2 separate regions of the Homo sapiens genome follow, and region 2 is linked to region 1. Evidence: fine-mapped QTL for protein levels in blood plasma. Region 1 holds a variant in brackets. A gene starts in the other region. All regions are shown on their reverse strands.

What was found. A credible set is the group of variants that fine-mapping cannot tell apart. PIP is the chance, under the fine-mapping model, that this variant and not a neighbour inherited with it causes the effect. The UK Biobank Pharma Proteomics Project read protein levels with antibody pairs (Olink). The fine-mapping took linkage between variants from a reference panel, not from the people measured, so its PIPs are less certain.
Region 2: CRLF1 starts here. The variant in region 1 is the best candidate, but not a certain one, in a credible set for the plasma level of the CRLF1 protein (UK Biobank, PIP 0.64).

What each region holds. Positions count from the first base shown.
Region 1 is chr2:64,993,038-65,001,037 of GRCh38, reverse strand. All of the region lies in intron 1 of SLC1A4 (solute carrier family 1 member 4), which reads right to left. It also overlaps the pseudogene RNU6-548P. Among named protein-coding and RNA genes, the nearest start is that of SLC1A4, 7.6 kb to the right of the region's middle. The variant C/GC (reference allele first, on the strand shown) is at 3,084.
Region 2 is chr19:18,599,939-18,607,499 of GRCh38, reverse strand. It overlaps CRLF1 (cytokine receptor like factor 1), which reads left to right and starts at 701. Exons shown (of 9, transcript NM_004750.5): 1 at 701-958. The coding sequence starts at 844. RefSeq lists an enhancer at 661-1,579.

The DNA of each region.
Region 1 (8,000 bases):
CTTAATGGTGTCCAACCAAGTCTATAACTGCATTGCTTTCCTCTCACCTAGAGGTTAGGCACCATTGCAGTGGTTTGCAATGTCAAGTGTCACTGCTCACTAGTGAAATCCAAGGGCGTTTTTGTTGTTGCAAAATTGAGGCATTCCCCAATTGGGGGGAGTGTGTAGGGAGAAATGCCAGGTCCCACACATTTGTCCTGTTAAATGCAGTAGAGTCCTGTATAATGAATTATCTCAAGGCCCTCCAATGTCTTGCATGACATACGTGTAGATAAAAACCTTATCTATAATTACTCAAGACTAAACTAATTCCAAAACAAGGTTCTGTTTTTCACAATTTGAACATACGCTGAATTTTCCAGAAGTGTAACTCCTTGTAAATTATGGGGTGGTTTTTGTTTTGCTTTGTTCAGAATGTTTCCAAATATTATTTGTCTTCCTGGAAAATCACACCACCAGTGCAAATTGTAGAATCTGAGTCCCTAATTCCACACCCAGTGTCAAGTAACAGTCTGCATTTATAACTATTTCATTAGCAGTGATTCTGAGTTCAGGAGTAAGCATTCAACCACTTTATTTTAGAGCATGTATATATTGAGACACATTGTTTTTGTTATAATTATTTTCCTTTTGTATATTACAGTTACATCATATTGATATTTTGAAATTATGTGGGCAGGGACATTTTATTTATGGATTTCATCTTAGAATTAAGGATATTATAAACATTTGTTATAAAAGTAGGGCAATCGAGCTGATGGAGCCCAAAATCTGTTCATGCAAATAGTTTTACTGAGGGCTCTGTGTAGGATGCTGGTCTTGATATACAAGAAATTCTATTCCAGCTGACAGTCCATTTGTTCTCACTTCCTGCAAGAAGAGTAAGTCTAGAAGAGCAAAAGACTCTGGATCATTCTTAACAATTTGTGTCAAACTTATCCACTAATTCTTACTTCTGTAAGAAGCTGGGTTGCTCACCAGGATCTCCAGGCAACTATTTGCAGTGCATTGGGTTTCAGAGGTAGGCAGGTCTGGCTGCAACCCAGCTGTGGCAGGCAGAGTCTAAGATGGCCTCCTGGTATTCACACCTTTGGGTAATCCCTTTAGTCTGGGTGGACCTATGACTTGCTTCTAATGAACAAATGCAGCAAAGGTGATGGGATGTCACATCCACGATTTGGTTACATAAGGTTGTAGCTTCCATTGTGCTAGCTGACTCTTCTTATTGTCTTCTGCTTGCATACTTTGATGAAGCAAGCTGCTATGTTAGAAAGGCCCACGAGACTAGAAACTGCAGGTGGTCTCCAGCCAAGAGCCAACTGAGGCTCCCAGTCCAAACTTCAAGGAACTGAATTCTGCCAACAACAACATGACCTCAGAGGTGAATCTCTCCCCAGGTGGACCTGTGGGTAAGAACCTAGCCCTGACCAACACCTCCGATTGCAGCCTTGTAAGAGACTCTGAAGCAGAGGACCTAACTAAACTGTCCCAAGATTCCTGACCCCAGAGAGACTGTAGGATAGTAAATATGTGAGATTTTAAGCTGTTTAAGCTGTTAAATGTGTAGTAGTTTGTTATGCAGCAATGTATCAGCCAACAAAGTTAATAAGATGCAAAAATCAATGCATTAGAACACTTAGGGTGCTCTCACAGGACGGCCAGCATACACAGCCTGCAACACAGCATTTCCCAAACTTGTCCATAGAACCTGAGTTGCTTTTAGCATATTTAGAGAATACCAGAGTACATGTCTGCATTTAAGCAGAAAAAATTAATCTTTAGCTGAATTAAATTGTTGCAAAACTGTGACCAGAAGTTTGATTCTTATCACAGCTATATTTACTTTTTAAAAAGTAGAAACAGACTAGCAACTTATATTGGCTAGTTTTCGGAGTATAGATGAATAACAACTTACATTTGTTATTATTTCCATTACAAAGCAACTTTCTTACATATTTTAGTCTTGGGGACTACCTTTGGCATTTCATTTCCATTTTCTGCCCTAGTCAGAAGCAGCAAGGGGCCCTGTGCCAAAGTCTCTCTGTTCTGTATCCACCACACAACAATCCTCAGTTGTTGACAGACTGAGCTGCTCTAAGTTTCTCTTTCCATGAGGACCGGGAAGTTCAGAAAAGAGTTGGGTTAGAAGACCTCCACTTTCCTCATGGGAAACAATTTCCCCCGGCAAATACCTCACATCCTTCAGGGATTAGCTGTTTCCTCAATTGGTACAAGCACAGCCTTTCCCACAGCCTTGAATGCATTCTCTTCTAAAGAGCACAACACTATTTGTTTAATTCTGTCTATCTGTCCTGCCCAATCTTTTCATACAAGCAATAACCCAGTAACATCTCACCCAGAACAGGCCCTGTCCTTAACCCAGAACTTCTACACCTAACAGCCACTGGCACACCGACCTGTTTTCAGACTGTCTACAATATCTAGTCTGCAAAATCCAATGGGAACAGAGGGGTCCAGAAGCAAAAGAGCAACTTCTGCCCCCCAAAAATCAAGTTCCTAAGAAAAATGTGATGTGTTTTGACAGTTTCTGATAAAGTTAAACATACACTTACCATAGGACTCACCAATTCCATTCCTAGATTTTTTTTTTTTTTTTTGGAGACAGAGTCTCACTTTGTTGCCCAGGCTGGAGTGCAGTGGCAGATCTCGGCTCACTGCAGCCTCCGCCTCTGGGTTCAAAAGATTCTCCTGCCTCAGCTTCCCGAATAGTTGGGACTACAGGTGTGCACCACCACGCCCGGCTAATTTATTTATTTATTTATTTATTTATTTATTTTTCTGAGACGGAGTCTCGCTCTGTCTCCCAGGCTGGAGGGCAGTGGCGTGATCTCGGCTCACTGAAAGCTCCGCCTCCGAGGTTCACACCATTGTCCTGCCTCAGTCTCCCGAGTAGCTGGGACTACAGGCGCCCGCCACCACACCTGGCTAATTTTGTTTTTGTATTTTTAGTAGAGACGGGGTTTCACCATGTTAGCCAGGATGATCTCAATCTCCTGACCTCGTGATCTGCCCCCCTCAGCCTCCCAAAGTGCTAGGATTACAGGCGTGAGCCACTGCGCCTG[C/GC]CAATTTGTATTTTTAATGCAGACAGGGTTTCACCATGTTGGCCAGGCTGGTCTCAAACTCCTGACCTCAAGTGATCTGCCCACCTTGGCCTCCCAAAGTGCTAGGATTACAGGCATGAGCCACCACGCCCGGCCCACTCCTAGATATTTACCCAAGAAATATAAAAATATATGCCTGCAAAAAGGAACTGTATGCATAACAGCGTTATTCATAATAGTCCAAAACCCAAATGTCCATCAACAGATGAAGGGATACAAAGATTATGAAAACTCCATACAACGGAATACCACTTGGCAATAAAAAGGAGCCAAGTGATATACGCAACAACATGGATAATCTCAGCAACACTGTGCTGAGCAAAACAAGACTGACAAAGGAGAGTGCATACTGAATGATTCTGTTGATATGAAACTCTAGAAAAAGCCAAACTAATTTATAGTGATAAAAAGCAGGTCAGCTGCCTGAGGCCAGGGGTGGAGAATGGGGATTGCTGAGAAGAGTCATAGGTGATGGAAAAGTTCAGTATCTTGATTGTGGTGGTGGTCACATGAGTTATCCATTTGTCAGAACTCATTGAACTGGACCTTTAAAGTGGGTGCATTTATTGTATATAAATCCTACCTTGAAATTGTTTAAAAACTTATATAAAAAAGTATGGTAATAACTGTTAGAGATTTTCCAACTAAAAAATACGTACATTCAATGGGAGGGCTGAACTTTTTTTTAGATTATACAGCTCATTTCTCAGATAACAATCTCTGGGAAGGGCTCTCCTGGTGGCAGTGAGCTGAAGCACCATAGAAAGCATCCTCCTTTGCTTTCATCCTCTGCTTGCCACAGACCAAGAGCAGGAGCAGTGCCCTCCTGCTGTCACCAAGGGCAAGGAGATGAGGCTGCCAGAATAAAGCAACATGTTTCTCTGTCCTCTACTTTCCCTCTCTCCTTTGGCTTTCAGACACAGATGCTGCGGTAAACTCTGGTTCTTACTCCTGAGCTCTCTTCTAATCCGGGATCAGCTGCCTCTCTGGCAAACAGTTTTGCTTCCCAGAGCTCTGTCTTCAGGCATTTTTCCCAACTCCTCATGTTCACACAGTAGCTTCATGGGCTTTTGAAATCAGAGACAGTGAGCTGGAAGGGATTTTAGAGGTGATCCAGTTCTATCCCCTCATTTAGCACATAGAGACACCAATGCCCAGTCACTGAGCATCTCCCATTTCTGCTCCATCTAGGCCAGCACTGTCCAACTGAAATGCCTGCATTTGTGCTGCCATGTTGGACTATAGAGCACTTGAAATGTAGCTAGTGCCACCAAGGAACTGATTTTTAAGTTTTATTTACATTTGAAGTAATTTTAAATAGCTACATGTGGCTAGTGTCTATTGTATTGGACAGCCCAGATGTAGAGTACTGAAATCCAGAGTCCAGAAGTCAGGAGGACCAAATGGTCATCCTGTGTTCGCCTCTGCACATCACCCACTTTCACTGGGTGTTAGGATGCTTCTAAGCACTGAGCTCCTCATCTTATTCAAGTTTGCAAATATTTCCTTTTTCTGTTGTTTGATCCTGAGAGATCTACTTGAATTACATATGTATTAGGCCAAAGTTTCTCAAATATCAGTAGACCATTAAATCAGTGTATTGGCTTTAACCAGTATTTTATAAAAGATGAAATACATTAGACAAAAATATCAGTATATATCACACTTAAAATATTGTTTGGTGGAACCTGTGTTTTGGTTTGAGTATGTGGGAGTTGGGGGGCGGGTATAGTGTGGATGCCATAATGTAAAATGTACTTTTTATGGTAGGTCAAAATTAAAAACGTGTGAAACCTCTAAGATACACTACTAAATCTAGAGGCCCAAGTCAGTCCAAGCCAGGAGATAATGAATGAACAAGCTTTTCCAGCGCTATAAGACTCTTTGAATACATTACTTAAAACAAACAGAAAAACTGGTATGAAATGAGGTTGAACTGGCCAATGCAGAACCACTGTGGGAGGTGCTGTGCAGACCCATGCAGCTCACACAGTGAAAAACTTCAAAAACGTTCTGTAACATCTGATACTGTTTGTTCTTCTGATCCTATTGTCAAGGGTGGTATGCATTTCTCTGTTCTATATGAAAAGAATGTAAAACAATTTACTTTTGCTTGGGCATATTTTGTTCCAGAATTATTTCCTTTTATTTAAGTTCAAAAATTCTTTACCAAATCTATTAAAATTTCAAAGACTCTTCAGAACAGGATATGGCATGGTATGTACACCTGATAAATATTTATTATCGCTAGTATTTATTGTAACAGAGCCAGTTAACAGGGATGTGACCCTTCAGATCTTGGTACCCCCTACAAGGCTGAGCTGAGGAAGGGCTGGGGCTGGTGGACTTGCACTCTGATGATGGGGGTGTGAATCCATCCTCTCTTTAAGGCCTCCATCCAGTTTTAGATTCCAGCTGGAAAGGGTAAGGCTGAACCCCTGGAGTGGGGATCTTTTGGGGGAAATTAAGTTAAGAGCAGCATTCATGCATCATATCAAATAGCCCTCAGCTGTCCCTGAGAGGGTGGGACACACTAGAATATTGGCAAAGCACTCATATATTAACTCATTTAATCCTCACAACCATTCTAGGTTGTAGGTCTCACTAGTCTCATTTTACAGATAAGGACACTCAGGCACAGAGAGGACAAACGACTTGTGCACGTACAGCAAGTACGTCATAGAGCTGGGCTTCAAACCCAGGTGGTTGGCTTTAGTGTCTGCTCTTCATCACTACCCACCTCCCTAGGTTGATGCTTTTTTCTGTCTCTAAACTATTCAGGTGTCCTCCTGGGAGGTAAAAGAAATGGTCAAGAGTGAGAACCTTTTTTTAAAAAAAATTACAAGCTGCTATTATTTTCCTTTCATCACTAGTTAGGCTGAGACAATGCCATTAATTTGGATCCTTGTTAGATGTGCTGTCTTCATCTTGCCTATAGAAGAGACATGGGCATAGTTACAACAACCCGCCACAGTCAATAATGTAAAGAAATTGTTCACAACTCACTCCTCAACTTTGCCATCTGGTGGCTAATATTACTATTTATTTTAATTTAAAAAATATGGAACGCTTCACATTGGAACATCACGTTGTGTGTCATCCTTGCACGGAGGCCACGCTCGTCTCCTCTATTGTTCCAGTTTTAGTATATGTGCTGCCAAGGCAAGCACAGGGGGCTAATATTAAATCTCAGTCTCTGATAGTTTTTTTTTTTTTGCACCTATTCAAGTAATGTGTTCTTTGCAGCTTGAGAAGCATCATACATATTCACACCAGTCCTTGAGAAGGAGGTACGTCCAGCACACCTCCCTCTGTGAAGGGAAAGGCTCAGAGCATGGTTTGCTATTAAGAAAATTAGCACGAGCAGTGAAAAAAACCCTAGAAAACTGGGCAACAGACAAAATCCTAATTGTATTTACCATATACATGGCCACACCCTACTATGCTACTGCAAGATGGTGGCCCTCGGCCATTCTTCTGGCTGCCAGCACAGACCAGAGCCCTGGGCCTAGGCTCTGTCCCTACCTGCCTCCTTGGCAGTTACACCTTGGTTCTCCATTTGAAAACTACAAACTTTAGAGCCCAAAGGAATGTTAGAAACCATTTGCCTCAATCCCTTCAATTTATAGCGGAGGTCAACTGGAGATCATAAGCATGTAAGGCAGGGGAAAAAGAAACCGGAATGTCAGTGAGAATCTGTGGGGACTTCTGTCCCATTTCAGAATGGAAGGCTCTTCTGTGTTTAGTTTTGACTTCTCTCCCTTTCCAAATTTTCCATAGTGTGACTCTATTAATTAGTAGTCTAAAACATAGTCAGTTACTGTTCACTTCTCCTCCAGATGCCATGTGGTTCCCAATACACCTAGAGACTACATTAGCTTCAAGTCATCTTGAGTTCCCCTAAACATTCCTCTTCTTCCCATCTACCCTCATTTATTTCAGGTTACGGAAAGAGGGCCATCCCCATTAGCTCAGGTGAACTGGAAAACCCAATCACTCTATTTATAACAAGAGCACAGGTGTATTGGGCCAGCACTGTTCTAACAGCTTTAGAACCCAGAAGAGCTTTAGAGCTCTTAGACACAACCCAGCTAACCCTCAGAACAATCCTGCGAGGTGGGTACCATCATGATTCCCATAATAAAGATGAGGAAACCAAGGAATGGAAAAGTTATGGACATGTCCCACAACCAGTAAGCATTGTTAGGGACCAAGAAGTTCCACAATGACTAGTTTCCTGATAACCTGTTTCTGTCTCTTTGGTGCCCAACCATTTCATTTTGGATAAAAACCCACAAGTCAACCACTTAGGTCACACATGGTTCTGAAAGTCCTATACTGTTCTGGATTCCCAGGCACAGAACTCCGGGCTGCTCAGGAAGAGACTATGATTCTTCCACCTGCCAGCTACTATTGGCCATCCCTTCTCATTGCTTCTAGCTCCAGCCTTCTCATCCCAATTCTCTATTCTACATTGTTATTTCTAACCCATTGTGTGCTGGGAAATCAAACCACTCAGCAATGACATTCTGAATTTTAAAAAAACATATACACATGTAATGAATACCTACTAGCTTCATCTCTTTCTGACTTGTAGTTCCAGCTTTAAAAACCAAATTAGAAATCATGACAGAGAGACCCTGGGGGATTTGGGGGCACTTTACCATCAGGAAAGGGCATGGACTTTAGCACAAAGCCTCAGCAGCAGCTATGCTGACTCATCAGAGGCCTTTCCCACTCTTCCAGGTGTTTAAGTTCTGAGCAGCTACCTCGAGAGGGCCTGCTGGATAACTGAGGCGTTTACTGGCAGAGTCTCATTTCATTCACGTGCCCCTAGGAAGAAAGGAATGGGGCACTGCCTTTCCAAAGAAGATGCCC
Region 2 (7,561 bases), not on the chromosome of region 1:
CCATCCCGCGCGCGAAGGGGACAGCGCAGCCAGGGCGAAGGCGAGGGACTCCGTGCCTTCCTGCTTTTTCTCCTTTCTTCCAGCAAAGCCTGGGGCCGAGGCTACTCGCGGAGAATCGAAAAGAGGCAGGATGAGGTGGGAGGGCTGGAACCCGCGCGCCGAGGGCGTGGGGCTGGGGGTGACTTTTAGGCCCCTGGGAAGGCTGAGGGGCTGGAGATGGGGGTAGGCGGGACTCAAGGACCGCTCGGTGGGGGGGGCGGGGCCAGAGCTGGGGTGGGGGCCGAGACAGAAGATTGGGCCGTGGAAGGGGGAATGGAGGAGTGGGGCAGGGTTGGGGACCAAAGGGGCCACTGAAGAGGCACTGGGCTGAGAGGAGGGTGCAGGGAAGTGGGCAGGGTTATGGAAACGGGATTGGGGGTGCCGGGTCCCAGACTGGGGGTGGGAAGCCTGGAGCTGGCAGGGTTGGAGAGGGAGGTCCTGGGCCGGTAGGGGTTGAGTTAGGGGGCTTTGGGCCGCGGGATAGGGCGCGCGCGGTTCTCGGTGGGGCGGAGGCGGGACGGGCGGGGCGCGCGGTGCCCGCGGGCGGGCGGGCGGCGGGGAGGCCGGTGCGGGGCCCGCCGCCCCCCCGGGGCCGGGCCGGGCCGGGGGCGGGGCCGGGCGGGGCCAGCGGCGCATTAGCGCCTTGTCAATTCGGCTGCTCAGACTTGCTCCGGCCTCCGCGTCCGCGCCCAGCGACGTGCGGGCGGCCTGGCCCGCGCCCTCCCGCGCCCGGCCTGCGTCCCGCGCCCTGCGCCACCGCCGCCGAGCCGCAGCCCGCCGCGCGCCCCCGGCAGCGCCGGCCCCATGCCCGCCGGCCGCCGGGGCCCCGCCGCCCAATCCGCGCGGCGGCCGCCGCCGTTGCTGCCCCTGCTGCTGCTGCTCTGCGTCCTCGGGGCGCCGCGAGCCGGATCAGGAGCCCGTGAGTACCCGGCGCCCCACTCCTTCCCCCCTGCCAGAGCAGAGGGCGGGCGCCCCGGGGGCAGCCGCGGGGGGAGGGGGCGCGGGCGCCACCTGGACGGCCGGGGAACAAAGGAAGGCGCCCCCGGCGCAGCCCTCGGGGCGCCCTCACCTGCGGGGCACACGGCGCCGCAGTCCACTGTCCAGAGAGTCCTGCTTCCGCGCCCGAGGCCCTGTTACCTGGGCAGCTGGGCCGAGGGCGCCAGGCCAGGCCCCCGGGGGCTGGGGGGATCGCGGCCTGAGACCCTCTGCATGCCAGGACGTGGCGGGCGCACGCGTCTGCTTCGGTGGACTCTGGGCCCCTGGGACTGCAGGGCACCGCTCCCAGGCGGGGGCGCACGCGGTTGGCGCGCTGGGTGCGGGCCCCCAGCGGGCCCCCCCAGGCGGAGGGATGAGCCCCACGGGGAGGGCGGGGCTGCAGGGGGGCCGCTCTGGCCGCCTGGCGCGCAGCCCGGGGTCCCGGGGGACTTGTGTCTCCACGGGCCGGCGCCACCGCCCTCCCCCTGCGGGACCCGGCGCACGGGGGTCCGCGGAGTCCCCGCCACCGGCGGCGCTTAGAACCGTTTTCAGCCAGGCTGCGTCGGGCGGAGAGCCTCCAGCGAGAGGAATCTTTGTGAGCGAGTGGGTGAGAGGGAGAGGGAGCGGGAGCCAGTGAGTCCGGGCACCAGCGGGCCCAAACTTTGAGGGGGCCCACTGGGAACCCGCTGCCCTACGGGCCAAGACCCCTGCCCTGGAGGGACTTCTGGCCTCAGGCACTCTGGGGCCCCCCATCCAAGGAACACCCCCGCAAGGATACGTCTCCGTATGCAGACCCGCTCTGGGACACACCCAGAGACACACAAAGAATCACACTGGCTTGTGGCCCGTCACCCTCGCCCTCAAACTCGCGCACACTGCATCCCAGGTGCACATTCGCGCACCATCGCGGACGCACACACATTCCATCCCCGACACACACATTCACGGTCACACACATCCCACAGGGGAGGCGACCCAGGGGCACAGAGGCAGGCACCACTCGCCCCAGATGTTCAGTCACTCCACGCACCCCATCCAGGCGCACGGGCCACCCCGGGGGTCGCCGGGCACACACTGCTCCCAGGCTCATCCACCCTGTGCTGGGCTGTTTGCGGGCTGCCTGTAGGGCTCCTCCGGGAAGGGGCAGGGTCCGGGCATCTTCTAGGGGCACTTGCTGAAAGCCTGGCTCTCCCCTGGCTTTCAGGTGAGGGGCTACCTCGGGCCCTCCCAGGGCCCCTGACGGCTCTGCCAGGCGGTGGGCAGCGCCTGTGAGTGCCACTGTGAGCGCCAAGCTTTGTTTTCAGCCAGTAGAGCAGCAGGCGAAGGTGTAGGGGGTGGGGGGGCACTGTAAGTGTGTTTTTTCCTTTAAGGGGGGAAGAAATTAAATAAAAGATTCTCACACCTCGGCAATATGTTTCTACTTACGGTGTGTCTTAGCACCTGACCAGCAGGCGGGTGGGTCGTAAAGTGTCTGCAGGTACCAGCGGGACGGGAGATGGGGACCCCCGTGGGGACCCTGGGATGGAGGCCACCCTTCCGCCCTGCTTGCAGAGAATCTCACACTTTTCCCTTTTAAAACACATGGTGTTCCTTTTTAATAACGGCAGTGGCTCCAGATTGGGAAAAGAGGAGAGAAAAAACTTTTAAAGGCCCCAGCTCTGCGGGAAAGGAGGGGAGGCAGGGAGTGAAAAGGGAGCTGTTCAAAAGCCCAACCTAGGGATCTGCTTTGGGGAGCCCTAGGAGGCCCTCCAAACCAAGCCAAGCCCCCACCAACTCCGGCTCAGTGGGCTGTTCCCAGCTGCTCCCCTGCCTGGCCTGGAGTGCGTGCATCTCTGTCCCCAGCGCCTTAGCCCATTGTTTGTGGAGGCCTGGAGGGAGTGCCTAGTCAGCCGGGACCCCAGAGCTGGGAGGGGCTGTCATCTTTGCAGCTCCTGGGGGCTTCAGGCTTCTGAGCCCTCTGGACATTGGATTGCAATCACATCTCATTGATCTCCCCAGCAAGTAGAACGTATTTCTCCTCCCATTTTATGGAGGAGAAAATTGAGAACTGGAGAGGGGAAGTCAATTGGCCAGGTTCTCCCACTGGTGTTGCGCCCATATCCCGGGAGGAGAAAGTGTCCTTCTGACCTTACCGGCTGGGGCTAAGGGGGTGGGAGATTGGTCTGTCCAGGCCCGCCTGGCCTTGCCTTCCCCCTACAACCCGTCGCCGCCCGGTGTCCCCCGCCCAGCCCCGGGAGGGCAGCTGCAGCTGCTGGCAAGTGAGCCACGCCGGCCCAGGCCAGGCGGGTGTGGCAGAGGGGCAGCGCCCCCCAGCCAGGACCCCCCAGAGAGCCCCTTCCTGCCCAGGCCAAGCTGGCGGGTGGTGGGGGCAGGAGGAGTGAGACCCACTCTAGAAGGGCTGAGAGGGGCCTGGGGTCTGGGCAGGCCTGGCCGTGCCTCCCACTCTGTTGGGGGGGCCCAGGCAGGAAGCGGTGGGTGGGCCGGGGCAGAGACGCTGGCACACCCGAGTTCATGCAAAAGGAATTCCGAATTAGCGGGCGGCTGGCTGCCTGGGACCTCCAGGGCGGTCCCCTGGCCCCCAGCCCCCCGCCCCCCTCGGCCGCCCCCGCCTCCTCGGCTCTGGCCCGCTCAGCCGGCTCCTTCGCACGGACGCGGAGACCTCCGGCGAGCCCTGGGCCAAGCCCCAAGCGCAACTGCGATTCCAGGCTCCAGCGAGACAGAGCCCTCGAGCCAAGTTTGCCCCGGAAAATCATCAGGGCCGGCCCAAGAACCGTGTCCACCCCACCTCGCCCATCTGGGGCAGTGAGGGCAAGTGCAGGGCAGCGCTGGCATTCAGGGGGCCTCCCTGGGGGCCAGGATCACCCTGTCCTTGGCTGCCATCTCTGCGAAGCTGGGCTGCCCCTGCCTCCTGCAGTCCCTTCTTCCAGCCGCCTGGGGAGTCCTTTTAACGCATATCTCACCGCATCCCTCCCTCCCCGGCTGAGAACCCTGGAATCCCTCCTCCCTGCAGGTCAGGGTCTCTGACCTCTCAAACCTCATTTCCCACCGCTTCTGCCCCAGGACCTTGGCACTTGCAGCTCCCACTGCCTGGACATGCTCTGTTAGATAATGTCACAGCTACTTCTCTTACTTTATTCAGGTCTCTGCTCAAAGGTCACCTCCCCAGACAGGCCTCCCAAGCTTCTGCCGCTGCTCTGTCTTCCTCCAGCCCCTGCTTTACTTTCTCCCCTAGTTATTGTCTTAGATATTTATTTATTCCTTTTTCCTGCTGCTTCCTTGGATTTGATGCCCACAAGGGCAGGACTTTTGTGTGTCTTGGGCATCACCCCAGTGCCCACAGATCCGGACACACTATAGGTACCCTGTGAATGAATAGATGAACGCGTGAACGAACAAAGGCGTGGATGAGTCTTTACAACCACTCTGTGTGGAACGAGAAGCCCCTTTCCAGAGGCTCAAAGAAGTAAAACACTGAGGCCGGGTGCAGTGGCTCACGCCTGTCATCCCAGCACTTTGGGAGGCCAAGGCGGGTGGATCACTGGAGGTCAAGAGTTCGAGACCAGCCTGGCCAACATGGCGAAACTCCGTCTCTCCTAAAAATACAAAAATTAGCTGGGTGTGGAGGTTATGGTGAGCCGAGATTGTGCCACTGCACTCCAGCCTGGGTGACAGAGTGAGACTCTGTCTCAAAAAAAAAAAAAAGTAGAACACTGAGTCAGGCTGGGGGCATTCGAGTCCAGGTCAACTTGGTTTAAAGATCTCATGGGAAAATATTGTCTCCAACAATATTTTCACTCCTCTCAAACAACCTCATGAGGTTTGTTTTGTTGGTTTTTATAAATTTAAATCTAAATTTTTTATTTCTTTTTTGAGACAGGGTCTCACTGTCACCCAGGCTGGAGTGCAGTGGTGCAGTCATGGCTCACTGCAGCCTCAACTTCCCGGGCTCCAGCGATCCTCCTGCCTCAGCCTCCCAAGTAGCTAAGACCACAGGCATGGGGCCACCACCCCCTCCCCACCTGGCTAATTTTTGTATTTTTGGTAGAGACAGGGTTTCACCATGTTGCCCAGGCTGTCTCAAACTCTTGACCTCACGTGATCCTCCCACCTCAGCCTCTCAAAGTGCTGGGATTACAGGCATGAGCCACCGCACCCAGCCAACCCCATGACATTGACGCCATGATGTCCACTTTCCAGATGGGGAAACTGAGACTCAGAGAGGCATTGGGAGGTTGGCCTGTGCACCCCCTCCTCCTCTGGGCCTTGGTTTCCCTATGGACAAGGTTCTGGTCTCCAGAAGGGGAACTCCTGGGCTGCCCTGATGGCCAGCAGGAGAGAGAGGCATCAACCACCCATGGGCGTCCCCAAGTTTCCTGTGCCTAGTACCTGACTCACACACAACCTGGTTCAGGAAGTCCTTTCCCCTCTGACTTTCACAATACCCCAGGAGACAAAGAGCTTTCTCGTTCTCACTTTGCAGATGAGGAAAACTGAGTGGAGGGAAACAGCGATGATGTCAAGTCCCTTTGGATGGGAGTTGGGGACGTGCAGTTTGCCAGGGCTGCCTTTAGTTCCAGAGGTAGGCAGTGTGGAACAGAACTTTGGAGACCAGAAAATCTGGGCCTAACTAGTATGGCCTTCCCTCATTCCAGCAAGGAAACTCCATCTTTCAGAGCCGGAGTTTTTTCATCTTTAACATATAAGCAGGATTGGCCGAGAAAATGTAGGTAGTCTTAGCCCAGTATTCAGAACACAACAAGTGCTCAATAAATGGTGCTGTTAGGCCAGGCGCAATGACTCACGCCTGTCATCCCAGCACTTCGGGAGGCTGAGGCGAGTGGATCACTTGATGTCAGGAGTTCGAGACCAGCCTGGCCAACATGGCGATTCTTGGACTCTACTAAAAATACAGGCTGGGCGCGGTGGTTCACCCCTGTAATCCCAGCACTTTGGGAGGCTGAGGCAGGCGGATCACAAGGTCAGGAGTTCGAAACCAGCCTGACCAGCACGGTGAAACCACATCTCTACTAAAAATACAAAAATTAGCCGGGCACGGTGATGTGTGCCTGTAATCCCAGCTACTCGGGAGGCTGACGCAGGAGAATCACTTGAACCTGGGAGGCGGAGATTGCGGTGAGCCGAGATCGTGCCATTGCACTCCAGCCTGGGCAACAAGAGCAAAACTCCGTCTCAAAAAAAAAAAAAACATGGTGCTCTTAATGATTCAAGTAAGGGTCAGGGCTTTCATTTTAAGCAGTGCCCTTCCCCCACAGAAACACCTACTATGTGTGAGGCTCTGGGAGCATCACAGGAAGAACCCACAATCTTTTGTTTCTAGTTGCCAAAAAAGAAAAACAAAATGAGAATGAAAAATAAAGAAGGCTAGGCACCGAAGCTCATGCCTGTGATCCCAGGACTTTGGGAGGCCAAGGTGGGAGGATCGCTTGAGGCCAGGAGTTCAAGACCGGCCTGAGCAAACTAGCGAGACCTCATCTCTAAAAAAATATTTAAAAATCAGCCAGGTGTGGTGGTGCACACCTGTAGTCCCAGCTACTTGGGAGCTGAGATGAGGGAGGATCACTTGAACCCAGGAGATCGAGGCTGCAGTGAGCTATGATCGTGCCACTGCACTCCAGCCTGGCCAACAGAGTGAGACCCTGTCGCTAAAAAAATAAAAAGCAAAGCATGCCTGGGTGTATTGGCTCACTCCTGTAATCCCAGCACTTTGAGAGGCCGAGGGAGGTGGATCACGAGGTCAGGAGTTCAAGACCAGCCTGGCCAATATGGTGAAACCCCGTCTCTACTAAAAATACAAAACTTGGCCAGGCGCAGTGGCTCACGCCTGTAATCCCAGCACTTTGGGAGGCCCATACGGATGGATCATGAGGTCAGGAGATCGAGACCATCCTGGCTAACATGCTGAAACCCCGTCTCTACTAAAAATACAAAAAATTAGCCAGGCGTGGTGGCGGGCGCGTAGTCCTAGCTACTTGGGAGGCTGAGGCAGGAGAATGGCATGATCCCGGGAGGCGGAGCTTGCAGTGAGCCGAGATCGTGCCACTGCACTCCAGCCTGGGCGACAGAGCAAGACTGCGTCTCAAAAAAAAAAAAATACAAAAGTTAGTCAGGCATGGTGGTGCACACCTGAAGTCCCAGCTACTCGGGAGGCTGAGGCAGAAGAATTGCTTGGACCCGGGAGGCGGAGGTTGCAGTGAGCCGAGATCGTGCCACTGCACTCCAGCCTGGGCGACAGAGCGAGACTCCGTCTCAAAAAAAAAAAGCAAAGCATAGTGTTTGTCATAACGATGTGCTAAGCAAGAGTCACTTGGATCCGAATGAGCCTCTATGCCCGAGTTGTGTGACCCCTCAGAGAACCTTAAGCATGTCAGTGATGAAGAGTTTTGGAAGGATCCAGTGTTGGAGTCAGACAGACCTGGACAACTCCAGGTCTGTCAGTTTGGCCACCAGTGTTGCCCTGGGCATTTAACCCAACTGATCTCTACCTTCCCTATCTGTAAAATGGGGGACAATCATTAACAGCGTCTTT